Linked DNA regions of Homo sapiens. The protein of the gene in region 7 interacts with the protein of the main gene of each other region in a pairwise test. Each region holds a gene or a part of one and is shown on either strand. Other genes may lie near its edges.

Region 1 (3,500 bases), on a different chromosome or scaffold from region 7:
GAGAATGGCTTGAACCCAGGAGGTGGAGGTTGCTGTGAGCCAAGATCGCACCATTGCACTCCAGCCTGTGCAACAAGCGAAACTCCGTCTCAAAAAAAAAAAAAAAACAAAAAAACAAAAACCTGAGATAGAGCCAGGGCCCCGGTCTCTGAAACAAGCCCCCACCACCCCGGCCCCCCACTTTCCTGTCTCTGCAGCAGTCTGAGTCCCCGCCTCGCCGAGACAGCCTGGCCTCCCTGTTCCCCAGCGAGGAGGAGGAGAGGAAAGGTGGGTGTTGGGAGTACATGCCACAGAGGATGGCAGGCCAGGGTGGGGAGGGGGCTCTGAGCTGCAGGACCCCAAAATCTCTGAGCCAGGGGATGGGGAGGTGAGGGCAGGGTGAGGAGGACCCTGAATGTGACAGTGCAGGTGAGGCTGGGAGCCACAAAGACAGGGTAGCCGCTATGAGCCTGGCAGGCCCCGTATTCACATCCCACAGGGCAGGTGGGCTGCCGTGTTCCTGTCCCGAGGCCAGGATGCATCCCACCAGCTGGTTAGATGCTAGTGACTCCTATCTCAGAAGTTAGCGTGGGGGCCCATAGTCCCAGGGGCCAGTTAGGCAGTCCGGCAGTTCTGAGGCACGTGTCCCCTCATGCGAGGCTGGAGGGGCAGGAGGCTTGCAGTGACCCAGAGCCCACCCCACCCCACCTAGGTCCTGAGGCCGCAGGAGCAGCAGCTGCTCAGCAGGGTGGCTATGAGATCCCTGCCCGCCTTCGGACCCTGCATAACCTCGTGATCCAGTACGCGGGGCAGGGCCGCTATGAGGTGGCGGTGCCTCTGTGCCGCCAGGCCTTGGAGGACCTGGAGCGCAGCTCGGGCCACTGCCACCCTGACGTGGCCACCATGCTCAACATCCTGGCGCTGGTGTACCGGTGAGCACTGCGGCCAGCCATGGCTGGGGGCAGGAACGGCAGGGACCCATTGGGTGCAAGTGGAAGGATCCTGGTGCCCCCTCTGTCACCATGGAGCACCTAGGGAGGTCAGGGGAGGGGACAGCAAGAATGGGAAAGGAAGGGAAGGCTCCTGCTGTGAGAACGGCAAAGAGGGAGTGGGACAGGGATCTGGGGGGGCCACTGAGCCAGGCAGAGAGGAGTCAGAGAGCACGGACACCAGGGACCCCAACAGAGCAGGCAGGAGACCTGGGGTGGCTAGAAGCTTGGCAGAGGTCTGGGGGTACAGGGCCCAGTGTTAGAGAATTGCGAAATATGGAGGGGCCCACAAAAGGCCCTCAAAGGGTGTGCCACCCATGCTTGGTTCAGCCAGGTTCCCTGGGCCTGTCAGGATTGGCCCAGCCCCTGTGGCTGCAGCTGCCCCAACCCTTGGCTAACCCCCTCCATTCCTGGGGCGCCCCCCACAGGGACCAGAACAAGTACAAAGAAGCCACAGACCTTCTCCATGATGCCCTGCAGATCCGGGAGCAGACGCTGGGCCCTGAGCACCCCGCGGTGAGTGGGGCCCCAGGGAGACGAAGTGGGGTCAAAGTGGGGCCACACCTGCCCATCCCTGACCTGTGCCTCCCCCAACCCCGCAGGTGGCCGCCACGCTCAACAACTTGGCTGTCCTCTATGGGAAGCGTGGGCGTTACCGGGAGGCAGAGCCCCTGTGCCAGCGCGCTTTGGAGATCCGAGAGAAGGTCCCATCCCCCTCACCCCACCCCGAGGAACCCCTTGTCCCATGTAGCCCTCCCCAGGGATGCTGAGCACGTACATCGTGACCCTGACCCTCGGGCCCCTTGCGTTTGGTATTGGGAGACCCCAGTTGGAGCCTAGATCACCCAACCCATCACCCTTGACCTTCTGAGATCCCAGTTTGGTCTTGACCCTGACTGACCTCTCGCCTTACCTCACACATCACCCTCCAACTGGGTCCCCCCATAGCCTTTCCAACCCCTCATGGCCACCAGCACAAGCCCAACCCTGACCTACCCATCTCACCCTGTGCCCCACGTTTCTGGACCACCATGACCTCTGACCTTGGTAATCCCGTTAGATGGTATAACTTGTGTCCCCAGCCCCCAACCTCTCAGGTCACTCTCTGCTTTGACCCTGTAATCCCCAACTCATGACCACCATACAGCAGTGATGTCACGTGTCCCACCAATCCTGTATGATCCCTCTGACTTGTGACCCCTGGCCCCCAGGTCCTGGGTGCTGACCACCCAGATGTGGCCAAGCAGCTCAACAACCTGGCCCTGCTGTGCCAGAACCAGGGCAAGTTTGAGGACGTGGAGCGGCACTATGCCCGGGCCCTGAGCATCTATGAGGCACTGGGCGGGCCCCATGACCCCAACGTGGCCAAGACCAAGAACAACCTGGTGAGGCCCCTGGGGCTCAGAGTGGGCCAAGAGTGGAGGGTCCTGCCCTGGGGAGGCACCCATTGGTTGGATACAGGGTGAGCAACGTGAGGGTGGGGGGGGGCCCCCCAGGCCGGGCCCTTGGAGCAAGTGTCAGACACAGGAGCTGGCTCAGCACAGAACACGGAATCAGGAAACGCGTAAGTCCACGGCAGCCAGAGGACAGCCAGTGAAGCGGAAGCTGGCAGGCACAGGTGGCAGCAGCAGACATTTATTGAGCTCACTGTGGCCGGCTCCCCTCTTAGCCCGGTCCCCACATCGCTAGTTCTTATAGCGTCCCTATGAGGTGGGAGCTGTCGCTCCACTTTGCGTGTGGGAAGACTGAGGCACCGAGGCCATGCCACCAGCCCAAAGTACAGCAGACAGGCTCAGAAACAGGAGGCTGCCTGTCCTCCATCCCCAGGGCAGGAAGTAAGGCCGAGCTCCAAACCCACTCTGCCCCAGGGCAAGGCTTTAGGCAGGGGAAGGATACGGCCAGGTCAGCACATTAGAAAGTGGGGCCAGACGTGGTGGTTCACGCTTGTAACCCCAACACTTTGGGAGGCCAAGGCAGGAGGATCACTTGAGGCTAGGAGTTCAAGACCAGCCTGGGCAACATACCAAGACCCCTGTCTCTACAAAAAAAAAAAAAAAGGCGGGACTGGATGCAGTGTTGGGAACTGGGGTCCGAAAAGTTCCCAGACACTCCCTTCTCCGCAGGCCTCAGCCTACCTGAAACAGAACAAGTATCAACAAGCGGAAGAGCTGTACAAAGAAATCCTCCACAAGGAGGACCTACCCGCCCCTCTCGGTGAGCCCCTAGCCCCTGTCTGTCTTCCCTCCTGGTGGCTTCTCTATGTCCCCATCTCAGTGTCCCCCATCTTTCCCCCTAGGTGCCCCCAACACAGGCACAGCTGGTGACGCAGAACAGGTGAGGATGGGCTGTGCTTCGGCTCCTGGGGTGGGCGTGGGGACTGCATGGGCCTGGGGGACTGAGCAGCATCCCCGGCCCCTCCCCAGGCCCTTCGCCGCAGCAGCTCACTCTCCAAGATCCGTGAGTCTATCAGGCGAGGAAGTGAGAAGCTGGTCTCCCGGCTCCGAGGCGAGGCGGCGGCAGGAGCAGCCGGGT
Region 2 (4,223 bases), on a different chromosome or scaffold from region 7:
TATATTCATTGACAACTTCTGAATTAGAAAAGTCAATCTCTGATGTCTTGTATCTTCTGCAGTTCAGCCATTATTAACAGAACTCAAAACATTTGAGGTTCTCAGATAAATTTTGAAGCCTGTTAAATTTGAAGTTGGCCTGAAACTTTTGCACAAAGTGAATTACCCCTATTTTATTTAGGGTTTTTGCCTATTGCAACTGATTTTCCTTTATCCACAGCTATTCTACATAATGTTATGCAGTGTTTGGTTGAATCCTTAACACTTTTCTTCCACCTTCCCTGCATGTAGTTTGTACTTTTTACAGTTTGGGGTTCCTGTGTGGATTTGATTTGCCACATTCCGGGACCTCATTGCGAGTGATTCTGTTCCCCAGTTTGATGATGTTCAAAGAAGCAGGTAAGTGAGAGCTGGGGTCAGATATAAGCAGAAAGTCAGAACTTTTTTATTTAAAAATTTTAAAAAAATTTTTTGAGGGTAAGAAAGATCTTGCAGTCTTTTAGGACCACTGCCCTAACAACTTCAGATAGGCTAGCTGTAAGTAGAAAGAAGCTAGGACTGTGGAATTGAATTTCCTGGATCAGCTGCAATTACAAGGAGGATAAGAGAATGGTTGAGCTGATTCTTTTCTATTTTCTTTTCCTAGAAATAGTATGTATTTTTAGTCATTAACTAGTATTTTGGTTTTGTTTAATATCCCAGAAGCATTTATTCCTCTCTTAATACAGGTAAAGTGCTCCTGATGACTCTCTCACTCAGAGAGTTATCTTACCCTTCTTTCAGGGAAAGTGAATTTTACAAGTTAATTCTGCATGTTTCCCCTACAACTGATTTCATTCTGTACCATTAAATGGCCATTTATTTTCTCCCTTCTACTTAATCCAAGATTGGACATTGTTGAGTTTTGTTTGAACAATGTTTGTTATGCTGAAAAAGGACACCAGGCCTGGGGGAACTCATCCTGTGTCTAGATCAACAAACAGAACTCCAGAGGGTCCTCTGGTTCCTCCCACTTGGTTGGAAAGGTGCTTACCCTTTCCAATCAAATATTGACTTCTGCACTAATCCAAAGGGTTTTCTTCTGAAGCTGTAAACTGAGAACAGAAATATTGCCTTGAGTGAGAGAAGTCTAGGAAGCAGCAGGTTTCATTTTTTGTCAGCCTGCCTGGCCTTTACTTGGCTAACACTTGGGAGTGTTGACAGTCCTGAGCCCCCTTGGCAGAGAACAAAGGTTAGAGAGAAGCCCTCAGGCAGGGGGACAGATCCCTCTTTGCCTCATTAGGGAGAATTCAGCCTTGTCTGTCTGGTTGGCAGGGCACACTTAATCACTGAGACTCAGCATTTCAGCAGTTTGCAAAGGAAAGTGATATGAAGGGACAGCTGCAAGTAAGCCACAACCTAGATCTGAAGAGATCAAGCACTCATTTCACTTGGAGGAAAGAGAGAAGGAAGGAAGCTGAGGACTTAGCAGGGTAAGTTTTTTTTTCCGTCAACCTGTCTGCTTGCTTAGTTTATAATTGAGTAAAGTATTTATCACCCCAGGCAGTGTTAATCACTGATTAAACAGCTGAATGTGGCCATAATTACAGTGTCCTTAATGTATTTCTCCTTCTCTTTTCCTACCCCCTTATAAGGATCTCCAATGACCAGTTTCAGTCTTCCTTCTCCCTACCTCTCCAAAGACGTTTTGCATTTTTTGGTGACTTACAGAAAATTAGATGAGCACTCCTTATCTGGAGATAGTGAAAATATGACTGTAGTTTAGGTGAAACTTGGGACTCTTGGTGGTAAAGAAGAAGATGGGAAACCTAGGTCTAGGAATAGATTAATATTTTGTCTTGAATTTGGACATGAAGGATAAAAGTTTTTCTAGGCAATCAAGATCATGTCTCCTCTCCAGTTCTTGGTGTTGGTGTTCTCTCTCTTATACTGGGACTAAATTAGAGCCTAAGTCACTGGGGATGGCTAGAAAAAAATGAAAGGGATTCCCTTTCTAAGTGGAGAGCATTCTAGACTCTGGAAAGTTCAAAGAGCTTACTGCAATTCTTTCCAGCTTCTCCTGTGAGTCCCCTGTTTTTTCCTTTGTTTCTCTCAGTTTATAACCTGTGAACAGGGAGTAGCCTGGGGCTCTTTACAGGAGATTTAGAACCAGGGAAGCTGTGTCTGGGCCTGGGGTATATAAACTCAAACATGAACCTGATGATGTATATAGATGCAGATCAAAGACCTGGCTTCTCACCCACCTTCTTTCTTTTCTGCCAGAAAGCTAACTCATTTGTATCATGAACATTGTGCTCTAGACACAGAGGAGACTGTGACATTAGGGATTTTTACCACCACTCCTCTTCCTCAAACTGTGTGATCCTTTTGCTTTCTGACCAGTTCAGCCAACTCCCAGATTGCCAAGAGCTAATCTTCCTTTAGAGGAAGACCTCACCTTGGAAATGCGGAAAAGTAAAGCAGTACCTTTCTGACCTTAAGTGGCTTGCTTCCATTGCAGCAAAAAGGCTTATGTTTTAACTTCAGGGAGATATCTATTATAAATTCTGGGATTTAAGACCCTAGAGTTGTCTCAAATCACACTTTCCTTCCATACCTATTTAAAAAAAAAAAAGTCATTCTTTCAAGGTTTAAGAAAGTGGTGTCTTGGCCGGGCGCCGTGGCTCATGCCTGTAATCCCAGCACTTTGGGAGGTCGAGGTGGGTGGATCACGAGGTCAGGAGTTCGAGACCAGCCTGACCAACATGGTGAAACCCCATCTCTACTAAAAATACAAAAATTAGCTGGGCATGGTGGCGCGAGCCTGTAATCCCAGCTACTCAGGAGGCTGAGGCAGGAGAATCACTTGAACCCGGGAGGTGGAGGTTGCAGTGAGCCAAGATCGCACCACTGCACTCCAGCCTGGGTGACAGAGTGAGACTCTGTCTCAAAGAAAGAAAGAAAAAGAAAATGTTATCTTGCCTGAGGCAGGTGGGTAGAGTAGATAAATGCTTTTTGTAGAATGGCAGTGATTCTGAAAATGCAATGAGAATGTGAGGTGATTAAAAGTGGAGGACAGAATGAGGTTAGTTGTTGGAAATTGGGCCCTAAAGTGTGAAGGGCAATTCCATTTACTCTTTTGGTAAAAGGACATGACCCTTAAACCCTAAGATAATCTAATATCATTAGGTCCAATTTCTTCATTGAAGGTAATATATAGGATATGGTATACAGATGAGCTTGACTATTTCTGTTCTGTGGACTGAAACCATCCATTCACCCATGGGATAAGGGGAGACATTAAGAGGGTGGATGGAAACATAAGGATGAGGAGATAGAAAGTACAAAGGAAAATACAAATTTGTTCCTCCATTAACCTGAGGACAGGTTTTTAAGAGTCATGTTGTAAGATATGGATATGAGCTGGATAATTCTGGGAGCTTTTTGTTTATTTTTGCCACCTGCATACACCTCAGCTGCATGATGATTCTGAGGTTTTTCCTAACAGATCTGATCTAGAAGGATCAAATGTCAGATCATTTTTGTAACAAAACATGATCCCTGGTTTGAACTTTAACAGTTTCCTCATTCACACTGCCAGCGTTTTTAATCCTCTGTTATTTCTCTGTACCTGAAGACAATCTGGGGATTAATAACTTTTTAGCCTCTCAATCTCTATGAATACCTTCCTTCCTTTCTTTTTTAATCGAAGTGAAAATCATATAACATAAAATTAATAATTTTAAAGTGAGCAATTAAATGGCATTTAGTGTATTCACGGTATTGTTCAACCATCAATTTTGTCTTGTTCCAAAACATTTTTATCACCCCAAAAGAAGACCCCATAACCATTAAGCAGTTACTCCCCATTTTCCCTTCCACCCAGCCCTTAGCAACTACCAATCTGCTTTCTGTCTCTGGGTTTACCTATTCTGGATATTTCATAGAAATGGCATCATACAACATGTATACAACATTTTGTGTCTGGCTTTCTTCACTTAGTATAATGTTTTTTGAAGTTCCTCTACATTGTAGCGTGTATCAGTATTTCATTTCTTTTTATAGCTGAATAATATACATCTTCATATGTATATTTATATCCCAATTTGTTTATCCATTTATCCATTGATGGACCTTTGGGTTGTTTCTACCTTTTAGCTGTTGCGAATAGTGCTGCTATGAACATTCACATATAAGTATTTGTTTGAGTATCTGTTTTTAAATATTTTGGGCACATACCTAAG
Region 3 (3,500 bases), on a different chromosome or scaffold from region 7:
AAATTAGCCAGGCATGGTGGCATGTGCCTGTAATCCCAGCTACTCGGGAGGCTGAGGCAGGATAATTGCTTGAACCCAGGATACGGAGGTTGCAGTGAGCCAAGATTGCACCACTGCACTCCAGCCTGGGCGACAGAGCAAGACTCCGCCTGGGAAAAAAAAAAATGCAGATTCCAGTTCAGTAGGTCTGGGATAGGGCCGAGATTTTGCTTTTTTTTTGAGATGGAGTTTCGCTCTTGTTGCCCAGGCTGGAGTGCAATGGTGTGCTCTTGGCTCACTACAAGCTCTGCCTCCCAGGTTCAAGCAATTCTCCTGCCTCAGCCTCCCAAGTAGCTGGAATTACAAGCATACACCACACCCGGCTAATTTTGTATTTTTTTTTTTTTTTTTTTGTTAGTAGAGACAGGGTTTCTCCATGTTGGTCAGGCTGGTCTCGAACTCCCGACCTCAGGTGATCAGCTGGCCTGGACCTCCCAACGTGCTGGGATTACACACGTGAGTCACCATGCCCGGCCAAATTTTGCTATTCTAATAAACTTCCAAATGTTGCTGACACTGCCAGTCCCTAGAACACACTTTAAGTAGCTGTAGTTTTTTTGTTTTTGTTTTTGTTTTTTTGTTTTGAGTCAGGGTCTTGCTGTGTTGCTCAGGCTGGAGTGTGTGGCATGAACTTGGTTTACTGTAGCTTGGACCTCCCAGGCTCATGTGATCCTCCCACCTCAGCCTCCCAAGGAATGAGAACACAGACAGGTGTATACTACCATGCCTGGTTAATTTTTAAATTTTTTTATAGAGACAGTGTCTGGCTATGTTGTCAGGGCTGGTATTGGACTCCTGGGCTCAACCAGTCCTCCCACCATGGCCTCCCAAAGTGCTAGGATTACAGGCATGAGCCACCGAGCCTGGCCCTGAAAATTTAAATTAAGGTCTTAATCCTAGGTGCATATGAAAGTCATTGCAGTGCTTTTTATGTTTATTTTTATTTATTTATTTTTTTTGAGATGAAGTTGCACTCTGTTGCCCAGGCTGGAGTGCAGTGGTGCAATCTCGGCTCACTGCAACCTCTGTCTCCCAGGTCCAAGTGATTCTCCTGCCTCAGCCTCCCTAGTAGCTGGGATTATAGGCGCCCGCCACCCTGTCCCGCTAATTTTTGTATTTTTAGTAGAGACGGGGTTTCACCATCTTGGCCAAGCTGGTCTTGAACTCCTGACCTTGTGATCCACCCGCCTTGGCTTCCCAAATTGCTGGGATTACAGGCATGAGCCACTGCGCCTGGCCAGAGTGCTTTTTATTTTTTATTTTTTTATTTTTGAGATAGGGTCTCACTCTGTCACCCAAGCCAGAGTGTGGTAGCACAATCATAGCTCATATAACCTTGAACTGCTGGGCTCAAGTGATCGTCCCACCTCAGCCTCCTGAGTAGCTGGGACTACAAATGAGTGCCACCACACCCAGCTGGTATTTTTTTTCTTTCTTTTTTTTTTTTCTTTTTGCTGTTCTTGATCTCCCGGGCTCAAGTGATCCTCCCACTCTGACTTCCCAAAGTGGATAAGAAGCATGAGCCGCTGTGCCCAGCCTTCAGTGGGGTGCTCTATTTATTTATTTATTTTTGAGACGGAGCCTTGCTGTGTCATCCAGACTGGAGTGCAGTGTGGCGCAATCTCGGCTGACTGTAAACTCCACCTCCTGGGTTCAAGCGATTCTCCTGCCTCAGCCTCCCGAGTAACTGGGACTACAGGCGCCTGCCACCACGCCCAGCTAATTTTTATACTTTTAGTAGAGATGGGGTTTCACAATGTTGGCCAGGATAGTCTCGATCTCTTGACCTCGTGATCTGCCCACCTCGGCCTCCCAAAGTGCTGGGATTACAGGCGTGAGCCACCCTGCCAGGCTACTTTTGACACCCCCAAAATCCAGCCAGGTGCAGTGGCTCACCTCTGTAATTCCAGCACTTTGGGAGGCCGAGGTGGGAGGATTGCTTGAGCCCAGGAGTTTGAGATCAGCCTGGAAAATAGAGGGAAACCCAGCCTCTATAAAAATTGTAAAAATTAGTTGAGTGTGGTGGCGCACACCTGTAATCCCAGCTACTCAGGAGGCAGTGGTGGGAGGATTGCTTGAGTTGGGAGGTCAAGTCTGCAGTGAGCCATGATCATACCACTGTACTCCAGCCTGGGCAACAGAGTGAGATCCTGTCTCAAAACAAAAAATCTTAACTACTAATAGCCCACTGTTGTCCAGAGGTCTCAGTGATTACATAACAGTCAATTAACTTATTTTTTTATGTGAGCCAAAGATTTATGTCTTCATTTCTTGCATTTGAAGTACTCTTGGATGACATCCTTGGCCTGAGACTCCTTGCCATAGTCCTTAACTACTACACAACTGCAACCAACCACTTTACAGGGTTTCCCTTCTCTCAATTTTACAGAGCGCTACCCATTCCCCTAGTTTCTTGTTGTCATCAACCTTAATTAAGTTGATTTGGTGCTCAGCACAAAGGGACTCCACCAGCTTGACATACATAGGCTTATCACAGTTGGATCAAGCACACAAAGATGGGCTTGGCGCTTGTCTAAGGCTTTGGCAGCTTCACAGATTCCACGTGCTAGGCCATCGTGGATGAGGGCGGTCTTCAGCACCTCTTGTAAAGCAGTATTAACATCCATTACACCTCCAGCAGCAATGCCTCCCTCGGCCATGGCAGTGGGTTATGGGTGAAGCTGAATCTTGAACATACCCAAGCCTCCGCCTCCGCGCAACTCGGCAGTGGCAGGGAAAGGGTGATTAACATATTTTTTAATGTTATATATATATATAATACTATAATCTTACAATAAGCTGAAGAAAAGAAAATGTTATTAAGAAAATCAGGAAAACACATTGAATTTACTATTCATTAGGTGGAAGTGGATCATCATAAAGGTCTTCATTCTCATCGTCTTCACATTGAGTAAGCTGAGGAGGAGGAGGAAGAGGAGGGGTTGGTCCTGCTGTCTTAGGGGTGGCAGAGGCAGAAGAGGTGGTGGAGGAGGTAGATGGAGAGGCAGGCACATTCAGCTGTAACTTTTTTTTCTTTCACTCTGTCACCCAGGCTGGAGTGCAGTGGTGGGATCTCAGCTCACTGCAAGCTCCGCCTCCCGGGTTCACACCATTCTCCTGCCTCAGCCTCCTGAGTAGCTGGGACTACAGGTGCCTGCCACCACGCCTGGCTATTTTTTTTGTATTTTTAGTAGAGATGGGGTTTCACCGTGTTAACCAGGATGGTCTCGATCTCCTGACCTCGTGATCCACCCGCCTCACCCTCCCAAAGTGCTGGGATTACAGGCGTGAGCCACCGTGCCCGACCTTTTTTCTTTTTACTAGCCCCTCAGTGTTTAAAGTTGTAACTTTTATTTAATTAAATTTAATTAATTAATTTTTTTGAGACAGAGTCTCACTCGGTCACCCAGGCTGGAGTGCAGTGGCGCGATCTCAGCTTACTGTAACATTGCCTCCCAGGT
Region 4 (3,861 bases), on a different chromosome or scaffold from region 7:
GGCAAGTGAACAGATTCTTCTGGAAAATATGTTGGAAACATGCCACTTTCTTGTATAGATGGAGACAACACACTCTGGCAGGAAGATGTGGACTTGCAGACCCCAAAGGTTACTTCTATATGAGTTGTGTTGATTTGCAGTAGTGACCATTCCTTTACATTAGTACTTTGTACTTATGCATTATTCTGTCTCTCTCACACACACACAGATACACAGACACCATATATCTAAAAATTGAAGCACATGGTATTTGAGTCTGTTATCTTTCCTTAAGAGAAAAGAAATATACATTACTGTTGAACTGTAGCAACATATACTAATATTGAAAATAAGGAAGACACAATCTCCCAGGTCTAGCCTGCACAGCACAAATTTTATGTAAATTTAGGCAGGTTTGCCAAGTTTATGGCTTTGTCCTAGAGCAACAGTAATTGTCTTGGATGATGGAATGGTTGTTGTAATTTCGGAGCAATTAATCTGTAGATCAATGGCAGAAAAGAAAGCTGGGAAAGTAAACTTGCTTAAAATGAAATTTAGGCTGGACAAACAGAAAGTTCCCTATGCAAAAATGTTGCATGGCCAAACCTAAGCTAATATTTATAAATTTATGATACCTGTTATGCCATTTATTCTGACCCTCCCAACTTGAGAGAAACTTCCAGAGCTCTATTACAGGAAATACACACACGTACACACACACACACACACACGCGCGTGCACACAGACATAGACAGAGACAGAGAGAGAGAGAGAGAGCTTATAAACTAACAGACAAGATGAAGGATATAACTGCAACGTGAGGGGCTAAAAAATAATGTCACAATGATTCTTAGAGGAGTTCTTGTTTCATCTTCACAGATAGAAAAGCAATTTAGCCCCCAAACCTCTGTTCTCCACCAAGTTAATAATATGCATCCCCAAACTGGAAGTTTAAGTTACAATATTAGGCACAATACTCTGCTCAATGTGTTTCCAAATTTGAGGAGACTTGACAACTACCTTGTAGAAACTAAAACTTCATAAATAACTCTTTAAAAAATATCATGCTTCCATGATTCTTCTAAATCCTTCTTGAAATGATTTGTCTTTCCAACTGCCCTGCATCAGAATTAATGTAGTGAATGCCTTTACCATCCATCTACTACTGTGCAAACACCAGTCCCACATTTAAGTTCAAAGGAGTGTCACAGATTCATCCCCACCCACCCCCCTCCCCACTCCTTTTCTCCCTCCCTTCCTTAGCAACTGGTAACCCCAGAAAGAGAACTCCAAATCTAGAAAGAAGCAGTTGGTCCCTGGCTTCATTCTAGTTGCCAAGCCTCTAAAGCAGAAGCAGGAGTCATTTCTCCAGACCTAGCTGGCCTGTTCAGTGGGTTATCTCCACCACCTCAGGAAAGCTATTCTGATCAAATTTCTTCATGGCTTGTATTGAAAACGTGTAAGTACAAAACCGAGTACAACTGTTTAATTTTGAAGGCAAAGTCAGTTTGAATTGCTTTATTGTGTAACTGGGACAGGGATGAATGGGTTGGAGGAGATGTGGGAGGAAATTACAGACAAAAACTTGAAGGACATAAATTTAGTTACTAAGAATACCGGATTTAAGAGTGGCAACTTTGAAGTGTAATTTTGAAAGAAAATTTACAAATCCCTAGTCTAAACAGTGGGGTTTAAACATGAGGAAATTCTTACTCTAGGGTGTGGTGGTGGTTGAATGAAAGAATTTTTAACAAAATTTGGTGTGAGTGTTGAATGATACCTCAAGAAGAGAAACTTGTGTGTTTGTTAACATAACTAACTTTTCTTTGACTTCTGTGAAGAAAAAGATATTTTACTTCGGAAGACATACCAGAACAATCTTGCCAGAATCTGAATGCCAGGATTAGTGAATCATAGATCCTAGAGAGAATTGAAAAAGCTGGTATTTTCTATTATATGCTTACTATTAAGTTATGTGCATCTTCTAAGCTTCCTTGCTGCCTTGTGGAGGTGGGGAAATGAGGAATGAAATAGGCCACTGAGTAGTCATGAAGGGTAATCATGTAGCCTAGTACTAAAGAAGCCACCTGGGAAGGGGCCAGAGCGCTGAGCAAGTATTTGGCTACATATAGGGGAGAGGGCACTCCTTTTTTCCCTGGTATATTTCAGTGAGCTCAGTCAATTACATATTGTAGCTATTTTCTGGTCAGTGCATTTCCATTTTTATTAGCTGTTTGATTTCTGTTTTTGCAAGCCTTGGAGGGCACGCCCCTTCACCCTTGGTAGTATCTGTGGACAAAAATGGGAACCAGGAGCTGCACCACGACATGCCCCTGCAATGTCTGAGTTCCAAGCCAGAGGATGACGCAGAGCCCTGGGGTCAACCTCAAGTACCGCTGAGACCTTCCGTCAATGTGCTGACTGATCTGGATAGCAAGCAACTGGAGTGGCCCTCTGAAAGAACAGGATCCTGCATTCCTCTTCATAGCTTGAGAGCTCATAGACACCCCTACGGGCCACCACCTGCTGTTGCAGAAGAGTCCCTAGCAACAGCAGAAGTAAACAGCTCTGATGCACTGGCAGGCTGGAGGCAGGAGGGACAGGATGCTATTAATGTGTCCTGGGAAGTCTCTGGCGGCCCTCCTGCACTGATAGTAGGGGGCACAAAGGTCAACAATGGGGGCACTGAGAGAGGCAGTAATAACGCAAGGTTGCATGTAGCTTTGCCACAAGGTAAAGGGTTCTTTCCACCCAGGGGCCCACAAGTGAGAGGCCCTTCACATATTCCCACCCTTAGATCAGGGATAGTAATGGAGGTGCCGCCCGGAAATACACGAATAGCCTGCAGAGGAAAGCTGGCTCATGTTTCTTTCCCACTCAGGGGCCCATGCCACCCCATGCATAATTGGCCAAGGCCTATCCCGTTGTCTTCCAGTACTCCAGGTTTACCTTCTTGCTCTACTGTTCATTGTTTCATCCCTCCTCGACCTCCGATTTTCAATCCCTTTCTCACTATGCCTCTTCCTTTTGCTCCTCCTCCGATATTTGGTCCTCCACTGCCTTCTTATTTTGCCCATTTCCATTCTGGGGGAATGCCAGCTCCTGCATCACCCAACAGAGAGCACAGCTGATGGCAAAAAGGAAGGATGAAAAAAGGGTTGTGGAAAGAGGTGAAAGTTATTCATTTATGCTTTTATATTTGAAACCTTGTACCCTCCCACACTCTGTTTAGCACTAATGTGCCCTACTTGAAACCACGTACCCTCCCACACTCTGTTTAGCACTAATGTGCCCTATTTGAAACCTTGTACCCTACCACACTCTGTTTAGCACAAATGTGCCCTACATACTGGAGATTAAATAAAGATTGTGAAGTCTGAAATGCTGTAAATTATTTTTCAAAATGACACCCCAGGAACCAAAGCCTTGGATTTTGTGTTCTATCTTTAAGGTAATTAAAGCAGAAACAAACCTGTCAGTGTTTTCTAAATGGCTTAGTTAAATGACTGTTACTATTTTCTATTGAGTTGTCTTGCAGTGTGACTGGGGAAGGGTGGTTAGGTTCTTCCTAGGCCAAGGCTAGATTGGGGAATCTCTATCTACCCAAGGCTATAAGGGGTGCTTAGAGCTGGATGGCTGAATTAAGAAAAGTTCCATAAAGGCAGCCTAAAGTTCAGATAATAGAGAAAAATGAACAAACAGTAAAAGAAGCCAGATGAGATTGAGGTGAGAGTAATAGAGCTAACATTTAGCAGTCATAGGCAGAACCAAGTTGAAAAGTCAGGAAAGAAGGAGGAGGGAAGATGGAAGAGTATTCTTAGACCACTGCTTCAACACGAACTGGTGTTTGTGTTTCAACTTTTCCTTGTTGCTAATTACATA
Region 5 (3,500 bases), on a different chromosome or scaffold from region 7:
CCTAACGAACACACACAGGGACACATTTAAAGATGTGTGTATGGAGGAGTAATGCAGGCGACCCTATTGTGCCCAGGGCAGCGTCTCTTCCCGGGTGAGCCTCATTGTTTTAACTCTTTTGTCCTTAGGGCCCAGAAGCCGCTGCGTGGTTCTCCCGCCCTAGGCCGATAACAAACCGGGAATAGGAAAAAAACAAAAAATTGTTTTGCGGGAAGAATGAAACACACACACACACACAAACACACACGCACACGTTCATGCCTAGAGTATTCTCACCATCTCTCATAGCACCGTTTTTTAGTCCGCTCTGCCGGAGCTTCAAAATTCCGCGATCTTTAGACAACTCTAGGGTCAGATTTTAATGTTTAACTTTCATTCAAAGACGAGGCCTTTTGCTTTTTCACAGCCCATTTTTCTTTCCGCGTCTGGACAGAGCTGGCTTTAGTTGGCGCCCGAGCACCCGCAGCTTGGGGCACCAACCTGCAGCAACGGGGGATCAGTCCGGCCTGCGCGTTGTAGGCACTCACTCCACAGAGGAAACTATGTATTTCGAAAGCGTTTCAAAAATTCCACCGAGCCTGGTGGCCCCGAAAAACCCCAAGGCCCGCCAGACTTTGGAGAAGGGTCTGTGAGGTACCCTCACTGTCATACCTACGCCGGCACTCTCAGTCTTTTGGAGAAGCTACTAGAGAAGTGCCTCAAGACCAGCCTCGGAGGAGCCTGGCTCTCGAGCCTGCTCTCCCCCGCCCTCTCCCAGAGCAACAGAGGAACTTTCGAGCTAGGATCGGCTGGAACAGCTGCTCCGGCTGCGGCCTTGCAAGTATATTGCTGCGGCCTTGCAAGTATATTTCAGGCGCTCGGCGGCGCCATCTGCGCTCGGACCTCAGCCCCTGCTCCACCCGGAGTCCTCAGCTAGGGCTTGGGCCTTTCCCGCCAAAATCTTCTGCTAAGTGCTGCCGAAGCCGGGTCTCCCGCGGAGCGAAATAATGTAAACCTTCTGTGGAGGGATTTCCTCCTCCAGAAACTTCGGGCCGGGCCACACAGCAGCTGCGTTCCAGAGGCCTGGGGATGTGGTGGCGCGCGCGGGTGGGCACCTAGACAGGCACATCCAAGGACACGCAGGCAGATCGACACTCCGCGTACACGTGTACACGTGGCAGGTCTCGCATTCTCGCACGCACCCGTCAGCTCAACTGCTAGTGAAATGAGATAGGAAAAGCCCTTGCAGAAAGCGCGGCCGCCCCAGGGCACTTTCTTCTTTGGAGTTATCTAGATCAAGTGGTCACATGAATTAATCTGCCAGTTTATGGTTTGTTTGCTCAAAATAAAACTCAGAGATTTTAATTCTGACATCACCTCTCTACCAACCTCCAACCCCCAATAGGGTAACAGGGTGAACACGGAGGAAGTGACTCTTTACTGACGTTTAAGTAACGAATAAAAAGTGATGAGTTCAAGCCAGCGGGGGAGAATGTGTTTGTGTTTGCGCGGGGCAAGCGCCAGCCAGGGCACAGGCCGGAGCTCAGACCGCAGGGACAGGGTGTTCGGCGAACGCGTAGAGTGAGATGCCGGAGGGTCTGCTGGGGTTGAGTCCAGGGACAAGGAACCTTGGTTTGTCTCTGCCGTGCACGCCCCTGCACTGGTGCTGGCCTGGAGGTGCCTGGCTCCGAGGAGTCAAGGGTGAGGCCTGGTGGACTTACGCAAGGTACTCGCTTGTCAGGTTAAAACGGTCTTCCACGGAGGTCACCCTTTTGGTAAGTGACCTTGTGTGAAGGGAAGCGAGAGGGATCTAAGGCCCGAGTTTGTCATGGGCCAGTGAGGATTATTGTTCGCTGAGGGGATGACCGCCAAGGGCCTTTTTCTGCGCACTGATCGGATCTTACTAAATTAGACGCCCTTTGGGTGCGCGGGGCTGGGTTCCCGGGCAGCGGGGATGGTTATGAAGACATTCTATGTAAAACTCCGGCCCCGGCGCGGTGGCACAATAGAAACCAGTAGGCAAAGGGAAGTAATTGTAACCTGTTCCCACCCAAAGAAATGACCACAGCAAACTGCACTAGGGCAATGGGAAGTTCAGAGAATGGGAAAACCCAGATGTAGAGTTTGGACTGTGATAGGGAGGAAGGTAAAATGTGCTATGGTTTGCATCTCCAAAGGTCCCTTCCCACCCTAGGTTCCCGCGCTTCAGAAGCCAGTAATGATAGACCCAGGGATCACAAGGGGGTGTGCGGGTCTCTCCTTTTGCTGCCACGAAGTGCAGGGCGACCCCTCACCCGCCTCTGGCGTCCACCTCTGCACCTCAGAGACCCGCTGGGGAAGCACAAACCTCATGGGCAGCGAAGGCTTTCCTAGGCAACTTCACACACAGTCTACCGCCGCTGCAATTCTAAATTCAGATCTACTCCCAACTCAACGTTATTTCTTGCTGAGCACTATATTTGGGCTCTGAGCTTGCCACTTTGGGTATCTTGATTTGTATAGGTGAAACTCCCAGAAGGAAGATTTCATGGGGGCAACCTTCATGCAGGGAGGAAGGGAGAATTAAATTTCTTAAACAGGAGTTCAGACTGAAATGATGCTGACACAAATCGTCTGCCATTTTTCTGACACCTCCCATACCAATGACTTCAAATGGTTAAAAATCTTTTAATTATGAAAGAAAATTTGTTTAAAATCTTTTAATATAGACAGCATGTGAGGAGTGAAGAATGGCATGCAATGCCTAAACTGGGGACCAAAACTAAAAATACTGGGTATTGTGTTTTGTGTTCCCCATTTATCTGTATAATGTGCTTCATGAGTGTAAACATGGAAACGAGTTCCTCGTCATTAACCCTCATATTAGGCCACAAGGAGAAAGGGACAACTACATTTTGGCTTAGAAGGCCTAAACATTGTGTTCATCCAGTCCTCTCTTAGGGCATGCAATGCTATTATTGAGTGAAATATTTCCGGTCCATCACAATCGTTCTATTGCCAAAAAAATTATAAGATGAGAGGATCGCTTTGAGATCCTGATTATAGACTCTGGTAGAACTTTATTTCTCACACCCGGGAGAAAAACAATTACCTCTTAAATCTGTGAATTCCTTCTCAGGGTGGCTATAATTTTTTCTTTGTTTTTTGTTTTTTAAAGCAAGGCCGAACTGTACAAATTCCACAGGGATAAAGGGCAGATTGGCATGCTATATACCTTTCTCCTTTCTGGAAACAGGACTCCATTCGATTATTATTCTGGGAGTGCAGCTGGTTATTGCTTTCTTACTCTCAAAAGATAAAGTTGTTCAATAGGAGAAAATACTTAAATGATTTTCCCATCTGAGCTTTATGTTTTGACCTTTTGAGATACTTTTCACAAAAGGGAAAACTAAGGAACTGGTGGAATGTGGAATCTCTTTTCCTTACTCTTTCTCATCCGTGTAGTTTATTTTTGCTTTGCTTTTCCTGGTTTCTAGTAAGTCTGGAATTTTATATGTGCATGACTGACATACTCAGGGGTC
Region 6 (4,239 bases), on a different chromosome or scaffold from region 7:
TACATTCTTAACTATAATTTTATTCAGTCTAGGCCCTCAGAATTTTCCCCAAAGGAACACATCTTCAATTTTGTAATGAAAATCAAAGGAGAATGAAGCTCAGATTTCAAAATTTAGAGTAAACATTTCCAGGAACTCAGCCCCTCTGTAAAGAGCAAGGTTGCGTATTGGGCACCTACTGTATACCAGGCACTTTACATACAGTATACCATTAATTCATCCAACACATATTTTTTGAGTGCCTACTATGTGCCAGAAACATGATCCTCATAATTTATTAACACCATTTTACAGAAAAGGAATTCCTCTCATCCTTCTCAAATTTTTCTCCTCAAAGAAGTCGGCCTGGACCACCATGGAATATTGCCTCCCCTCTTCTCCCCAGTGCCTCACTTTGTTACTAGGTTGGTACAAAAGTAATTGTGGTTTTTGCCATTGCAAGTGATGGCAAAAACCGCAATTACTTTTGCACCAACCTAATAGTTATTTTCCATCAGAGTCCCATTGCATCTGTAATTATTGCTGCTTTACTCGCTTGGCTGGTTTGCATCGATCTCTCCTCGCTAGTATACAGGCTCCAGGAGAGCAGGGACCATGCCATTTTTGCCCACCCTTATGCTTCTTCAGTGCCCAGCAACTCATCGGGCACAGAGGAGGGGTTGCATCAGTACTGGGGGAATTATGAATGGGGATGGGAGAAGTTCAGAAAGTTCTTAAGGTCACACAGCTCGGAAATGAGTGTCAGGATTCAACCCAGCCCTGCATTTATAGACTGCCATCTTCCTCTATTTGTGTCCATTCTTCTTTCTTCCGTCTCCACCCTCTTGCTTTTCCTTTTCAGGGGAATTGCTAGAGAAGCAACCCCCTGACTCTCGGAACCAGAAAGTCTCCCTCAGCAGAGGTACTGTGTCAGTGCCCAATTGAATGAAGCCGCTTCAGTGAGGGTAGGGGCCTGTTGATCAGCAAACAGCTAACTTAGCCCTTCTCCCTGCACCTCGGACCTCCTACTCCTGCTCCTACCCACCTACTGAAGCTGTCTCAGTGGTCAAGGGCTAGATCAGGCCTAGAGTGCTGGGGTCTGAGTCTCAGCTTCCCTTTTCTCAGGGGGCCTTGGACGCAATCCCTTATGACTTTGAGATTCGCTTTCCTCCCGTGTAGAACGATAATAAAAAGTGGTACTAATTTCACGAGCTTTAATAGGATTGAATGTGAGCCCAGCGCTTGGCACAGGGCAAGCGCCCCATAAAATGGCAGTTAGGATTAAAATCGAGGTTGCCGGGGGACCCCCAGGCAGGAGCTGAGATTTGTGTGGAGCGGCGAAGTGGGGCGGCGGCGCGTTTGGCTTTGACTTCTGATCCCCCGAAGCGCTCTGGGGTCCTTTGGGCCCCACCCCCACCCACCCCACCGGCGGGTCTTGGGCTCCGAACCCAGGGCGCCCCGCGCACCGAGCCGTTGCGTTTGAAACCCACAGAAAGAATTCCCCCGCTCGACGACGGCGAGGGTGTGGGAGCTACTGGCAGGCAAATTGGTGGGAGCCGCCCGGCCCAGCCTGCCTTGCCGAGTCAGCGCGCTCTTGAGCCGCTGGGCCCTTCCCGGTGCCCGCCTGGCAGCGCGGCGCGGCTGGGGCAGGGGTCTGCTGGGGGCCGGGGACTAAGGGCTGTGGGCCCATCCACACACGCCTCATCCCTTCTTTCCGGGGGCAGCAGAGCAGCAGCGGGAGACCGGGAGCAGGAGGGGTAGGGCGAGAGAAAAGCAGGACCTGGGCCGGGGGTGGGAGTCGGGCCGTTGACGCTCGCTCTGCGAGGGGCTCCCTGGGAACGCCCAGGCGAGCGCCTCCTGCGGGGCCCCGCCCCCCGAGTGCCTACAATGGTGCCAGGCCCGCACCCAGTCCTCCGCGTGGCTTAGCGGGACAGCATGGGCTGAGCCCAGGCGCCGAAAGTTGTCACGGCGGCGTCGCAAGGGGGCAGTGCCAGGGACTGTGGGGAGAGCCAGCCCTCCCCTTCCAGCTGTTCCCAGATGTCATTCTGCCCGCCCAGGCGCCTGGTTCCTGAGCTCCGCAGCATTCCACTGTTCCTAAGCTACTGGTTTTTGTTGACTTTTAAATATTTTCTTCTAAGGGAGAGGGGGAGGGAGGCAAAAGTCAGGAAAGAGCAAATAAAAACAAATCAAAATAAGCCCTCCCCTCCCCAAAAGAAAGCTGTCCTCCACCCACCCCTCCCACACAAATAGAAGGCCTCTGAACCTAACCACCTTGCTGGAGCGAAAGCCAGACAGAACTGACCCACTTCTGCCAAGCCCCATCCTCATCTCCCTTTCTGGTGAATGAGGGGTGGTGGTGGTTGTGTTCTAGCCCTGGGTGGACAGAGGGGCTTCCAGAAAGAGAGGAGGAGGATGGCCAGCGGGAATGGGCTTCCTTCATCCTCGGCCCTGGTGGCCAAGGGCCCCTGCGCCCTGGGCCCATTCCCCAGATACATCTGGATCCACCAGGACACACCCCAAGACAGCCTAGACAAGACTTGCCATGAAATCTGGAAGAGAGTTCAAGGCCTGCCTGAGGCCTCACAGCCCTGGACCTCCATGGAGCAGCTCTCTGTCCCTGTGGTTGGAACTCTAAGAGGCAATGAGCTCAGCTTTCAAGAAGAGTAAGTACCCCCCTACTCCATTGGCAGCAAGGGAGGAGGGAGGAGATGAAGTCTGACCTTCTGGGGGAATGTTCTGGCCCACTGTTGAGGCTGGTGAAACCCTAAAGGCTGTATATTGCCCCCTCCATGGTCCTTTGTCCAAGCTTTATAGAAGAGCTGACCAAAGTTCTGAAGTTTTGTGGGTGAAGAGTCAGATTAGGGCTATATTCCAGGCTGCCTCTTCACCAGCCCGTTAAGCAGACATTTCTCATCCTAAACGCATGTGAATCTGAGGTCCTTGAAAAACCACCCTAGCTAAGGCTAAGGGTTATATGGCTTGTGGCTTTCCCCAGAAGCAACTAGAAGATCCTTCCCCTCTCCCACCTAAAGGCTAGGCATTCACATGGATGAGTCTGATGGTTTTAAATCACATCTGGAATTCCCTAATACAGGGAGCAGCTGTCCCATTCAGCCTCCACAGAAGCTGCTGCAAGAGCACACATCAAAATATTTACTGGGAAGGCACTGACATATTCAGAGGACATAATAGAAAATTAAAGTGCGGGAAGATGGCTGTAAATAGCCCGTTTCCGGGATGGGAAATCCTGTGTCTGGGAAACACAGAGCTAAGTGTTTCTCCATCAGGGCAAAGTTGGGCAGATATTGTTGAGGATGGATATTCGAAAGGAAAGGAAGGAGCAGAGAGGAAAAAGGGAAATTAGGAAAAGAAAGTAAATCTGCTGTGGTTATTAATACCGCCGTTGAGCACTTACTTATTTCACGTTTTGCATCTTCAAAGTGGACTGTAAACTTAATTAATGTTCCCAGAGTCCCTGTGAGGCAGGTATTAGTGTCCCCATTTTACAGATGGATTAAGTGTTAATAATTAAGAGCTAATTAAAGACTAACCGATAATTAAGTGTTGCCTGCTCCAACACATGCTACAGCTCAGTTCAGAGATGCTCTGGAGTTGGGGAGCCATTCAGGCATTTATCAGCTGCCTCGGGTTTCAGGGATGCCTAAGCAAGAGCTAAGAAGAAAAGCAAAGTGTAAATGACACCCAGCTCTACACTACCTGCTGTCCCTCTGTGGGCTCATTTACTTACTGCAGATGAAGGTGGAAGGCACTTTGGCTAGTCCTGCCTCCCTGCCCTGTGCTCAGCATGACAAGGCTCAGACAGGAATGGCCCATCTACAGCTAAAATCCTGCTGTCAGGCCCTTCAGTGGCACTGAGCCCTTCTCCCCTGCTCATTGCCATCTGCTCTGGGACAGGGCCTTGGCAGGAGGGCCCATGGGGCTGTGCTCTGCTCTCAATGGCCAAGAAGCTGATTGTCCACTTTGTGGACCAAGGGTCAGTAGCAATTTCCAGTAGATGGCATCCTCTTTGCCAGGTCACACAGAGTTAATGGAGACAGACTCGACTTCCAGTCTGCACTTGGCTGAAAATTGAACTGGTGCACCTTTGGCCAGCTGCTTAACTCCATTTGGCCTTTACTTCCTCATTTGCAAATTGAGGGTGATATGTGCTGCCTTGTCTACCTCAGAGTTGATAATGAGGATCCAATGTGATGGGAGACAGGGAAATGAAAGATGCATTATACAAATCAGGCTGCTCTT
Region 7 (3,500 bases):
TTTTAATGGAGCACACTGGAACATGTGGAATGGGTTTAGACTGGATTATTCGCTTTGTGGCGGTCTTCTTACATACATCATGCCAGCTTCTTCGTGGGGAGAGGCAGGTGAGTGGTTTTGCCCTCAGTTGCTTATAGTCTAGTTGAAGAGATAAAGTGAACATAGAGAACTGAAAAGGAACTTGCTAAGAGGGTGTTTTCTTTCATTCTTTTTGTTGTTGTTGTTTTGTTTTGTTTGTTTACTTTTTGAGACAGGGTCTTACTCTGTCACCCAGGCTGGAGAGCGGTGGTGCAATCTCAGCTCACTGCTCAACTTCACCTCCCAGGCTCAAGAGGTTCTTGTGCCTCAGCTTCCCGAGTAGCTGGACTTACAGGTGCACACCATCATGCCTGGCTGATTTAGAGGGTGTTTGCTTTCTGCTGGGCACATCCAGGCATCGTGGGAAGTGCTGTTTAAATTGGGCCATAAAAGGGTGGGTAAGGTGAGGACAGGGGACCAAGTGGGTGGGATTCAGGGTGAAGCAGAGTCATGGGGGTGGGGACAGACACGCTGATGCACATGGGAGTAGTGGATCCTCATTTACACTCTGGAAGGGAATTGTGGAGAGGGAGGTATAGATGAGGGGATGGAAGGGAAGGGCACCGGCAAATATTGTTGATAGCGAGGGAAGGGCGGTATTGTGATCGGCTTTGACTGTCAGCCTAAGGAATTTGAATTTCATTCTAGAGATCCAGGGGAGGTGTGTAAAAGACAAGATCAGAACGTTAGTTCAGGAAGCTTAATCTTTTCTGCCCCCCCATCTGAGATGTACAAGAGGGTTAGAAAGCAGAGTTGGAGAAGCTGTTTGGGAGGGAGCACTTATTTGTTTTTTTGTTTTGTTTTGTTTTTTTGAGATGGAGTCTCGCTCTGTTACCCAGGCTGGAGTGCAGTGGCGCCATCCTGGCTCACTGCAACCTCCACCTCCCGGGTTCAAGTGATTCTCCTGCCTCAGCTTCCCAAGTAGCTAGGACTACAAGCACCTGCCACCATGCCTGGCTAATTTTTGTATTTTTAGTAGAGACGGGGTTTCCCTCTGTTGGCCAGGCTGGTGTCGAACTCCTGACCTCAGGTGATGCACCCACCGAGGCCTCCCAAAGTGCTGGGATTACAGGCGTGAGCCACTGCGCCCGGCAGGGAGGGGGTAAAGTGAGAGGCATAAGGGTCCCGGCCAGGTGTTAGCAGGGGGCTTCAGAGGTGAGGAGAGAGCAGGGCAGGCAGCTGCTAGGCCTGGGGGAGCGGGCTGCGGAGGACTGAGAATCTGAGGTTTTTCTCTTGGCCGCCTGGGGGAAATCCAGGGGGAAAAGGAGAATGAGGAAGGAAGATGCGTTTGGCCTCAGACGTGTTGAAGGTATTAAGAGGCCAACAGGAAATGAGGCCATGGGCTAGAGAGAAGAGCCCTGATTCATTCCCCAAATGCCTCCCGAAATTCTGTGCGCCGAGGCTTGTGTTTGGCACTTGGAGTACAAAGATGAATTCAGCAGTCTCTTTGGTGTTTGCCTTATCAGCTAAGCTGAGAACAAGATTGATTAGTACACACTCCTCAGTGTTCATGCCTGACCTACTTTTCCTTATTTAGTAAGTTATTTTTAATAAATGTAGTAAGCTCTGGCAATCTAGGCACCCAAAACAAAAGCTGGGATCATGAAACAAAAGTATATATCTAATCTTTTTTTTTTAATTTTAAAAAACTTTAAAAAGTTTTCTACTTTATCAGGTCCCCTTAGAACATCTAATCATTTCATTTGAACTTGTTTTCTGTTCTTACCCTGAGGTAATCATTATCTCCTTTCTTTCATTTTTTTCTTAGTTTTATCTTACATGTGTATTTCTTTGTTTCTCTGTCTCTTTTTTTTTTTTCTTTGAGGCAGAGTTTCACTCTTATTGCCTAGGCTGGAGTGCAATGGCACGATCTCGGCTCACTGCAACCTCCACCTCCCGGGTTCAAGCTACTCCCGATTCTCCTGCCTCAGACTCCGGAGTAGCTAGGATTACAGGCATGCGCCACCATGCCCGGCTAATTTTGTATTTTTAGTAGAGACGGAGTTTCTCCATGTTAGTCAGACTGGTCTCAAACTCCTGACCTCAGGTGATCCACCTGCCTCGGCCTCCCAAAGTGCTGGGATTACAGGTGTGAGGCACCGCGCCTGGCCTATTTCTTTCTTTTTTTAGAGACAGTGTCTCACCTTGTAACCCAGGCAGCTGGAGTGCAGTGGCATAATCACGGATCACTGCCGCCCCAAATTCCTGGGTTCAATGGATCCATCCCCTTCAGCCTCCTGAATAGCTGGGACTACAGGCACAGGCTACCATGCTTAGCTAATTTTTAAAGTTTGTGCAGAGGCAGCTTCACTGTGTTGCCCAGGCTGGTCTTGAACTCCTGGGCTCAAGCAATTCACCCGCCTTGGCCTCCCAAAGTGCTGGGATGATAGACATGAGCCACCATGCTCGGCAGTGTTCATCTTTCGTAGCTATTGCTAGACCATTTCCTGAATGTAGTGCTTATACCAGTATCCACTTTACCAGCAGTGTCCTGTGTCTTGCAGCTCCACAGTCTTACCAACATTTGCTGTTGGCCAAGTGAATGGGTAGAAAATGGAATCTTTGGGAACTTGGTTTCTAGGTCCCTGAGCCCTGCTGCTGAATATCTCCTCTTATGTTTATTGGCATATGTGTTTCCTGTGAAATATTCATGTCTTTTGCCAGTTTTTCATTAGGGTTCTTGGTGCTTTATTTTTTGTTGATCTATAGGGCTCTTTATATATTGCTGATTTTAATCCTTCGTGTCTATTGCAAATATCTTCTCCCAGCTTTTAACCTATTATTCCTCTTTCTTTAAGGTGTCTTCTGTTGATCAGCCATTCTTCATTTTAACATAGCGAAATGTATTTTTTCCCTAGTACTCAGTTTTCTGGGTCTGGTTTGAAGTCTTTTCCTGAACATAACCCTTGCCTTTAAGGAGCGTATGCATTCTCCAGTGGAGGAGACAGATAATGGCACTGAGACGTCATGTGGGCATTGATTGTTAGAAGTGGCCACTTCTGCCTGTGGAGCGGGAGCGAACTTAGGAAAGATCTCACAGGGCAGAGTCTTGAGCTAGGAATTAAGAGATGAGTAAGTGGACAAGTGCGATGGGCATTCTCAGTGGGGGACGAAGGGCATGAAACATCCTGACCTGCCCTGGGCACTGCCAGGAGGTCCAGATGGCAGGAGCTGACGGTTTGAGGGGCTCGGGCAGGGCATCCCGAGGACAGCTTTGGGTGATCTGTATGCAAGGGAATATTGAAGCCATGGGAACAGATCCTGAGGATCCGGGGGGAATGGAGAGAGGAGGGGAGGAGGGGAGAGGGAGGCCAGGGCCTGATTCCCGGATGCAGAGAATGTTATCAACGCCCGGTGTGGCTCTGGGGAGCACCTGGGGCTTCCCAGGGGCGGGTGCTGTTGGCATGCTGCCTGCTGTGCTG

What was found.
Region 1: the proteins of DTX2 (region 7) and KLC3 interact in binary tests that used the Homo sapiens proteins (3 or more experiments, as listed by UniProt).
Region 2: the proteins of DTX2 (region 7) and MSS51 interact in binary tests that used the Homo sapiens proteins (3 or more experiments, as listed by UniProt).
Region 3: the proteins of DTX2 (region 7) and ECSIT interact in binary tests that used the Homo sapiens proteins (3 or more experiments, as listed by UniProt).
Region 4: the proteins of DTX2 (region 7) and PRR32 interact in binary tests that used the Homo sapiens proteins (3 or more experiments, as listed by UniProt).
Region 5: the proteins of DTX2 (region 7) and TBX15 interact in binary tests that used the Homo sapiens proteins (3 or more experiments, as listed by UniProt).
Region 6: the proteins of DTX2 (region 7) and C1orf94 interact in binary tests that used the Homo sapiens proteins (3 or more experiments, as listed by UniProt).

What each region holds. Positions count from the first base shown.
Region 1 is NC_000019.10:45,347,250-45,350,749, forward strand, and holds part of KLC3 (kinesin light chain 3), read left to right. Parts: intron 1-197; coding exon 198-267; intron 268-691; coding exon 692-911; intron 912-1,396; coding exon 1,397-1,484; intron 1,485-1,570; coding exon 1,571-1,672; intron 1,673-2,179; coding exon 2,180-2,353; intron 2,354-2,587; exon of another isoform or gene 2,588-3,091; coding exon 3,092-3,182; exon of another isoform or gene 3,183-3,264; coding exon 3,265-3,302; exon of another isoform or gene 3,303-3,391; coding exon 3,392-3,498; exon of another isoform or gene 3,499-3,500. UniProt on the Homo sapiens protein: Kinesin is a microtubule-associated force-producing protein that may play a role in organelle transport. Plays a role during spermiogenesis in the development of the sperm tail midpiece and in the normal function of spermatozoa.
Region 2 is NC_000010.11:73,430,762-73,434,984, reverse strand, and holds the start of MSS51 (putative protein MSS51 homolog, mitochondrial), read left to right. Parts: upstream 1-1,423; 5' UTR 1,424-1,472; exon of another isoform or gene 1,473-4,223.
Region 3 is NC_000019.10:11,522,635-11,526,134, reverse strand, and holds part of ECSIT (evolutionarily conserved signaling intermediate in Toll pathway, mitochondrial isoform 1 precursor), read left to right. Parts: intron 1-2,281; exon of another isoform or gene 2,282-2,779; intron 2,780-3,500.
Region 4 is NC_000023.11:126,818,426-126,822,286, forward strand, and holds PRR32 (proline-rich protein 32), read left to right. Parts: upstream 1-1,303; 5' UTR 1,304-1,418; coding exon 1,419-1,438; intron 1,439-2,233; coding exon 2,234-3,110; 3' UTR 3,111-3,361; downstream 3,362-3,861.
Region 5 is NC_000001.11:118,981,844-118,985,343, reverse strand, and holds part of TBX15 (T-box transcription factor TBX15), read left to right. Parts: intron 1-1,465; exon of another isoform or gene 1,466-1,754; intron 1,755-3,500. UniProt on the Homo sapiens protein: Probable transcriptional regulator involved in the development of the skeleton of the limb, vertebral column and head. Acts by controlling the number of mesenchymal precursor cells and chondrocytes.
Region 6 is NC_000001.11:34,175,468-34,179,706, forward strand, and holds the start of C1orf94 (uncharacterized protein C1orf94), read left to right. Parts: upstream 1-1,439; 5' UTR 1,440-2,322; coding exon 2,323-2,642; intron 2,643-4,239.
Region 7 is NC_000007.14:76,464,709-76,468,208, forward strand, and holds part of DTX2 (probable E3 ubiquitin-protein ligase DTX2), read left to right. Parts: intron 1-3,500. UniProt on the Homo sapiens protein: Regulator of Notch signaling, a signaling pathway involved in cell-cell communications that regulates a broad spectrum of cell-fate determinations.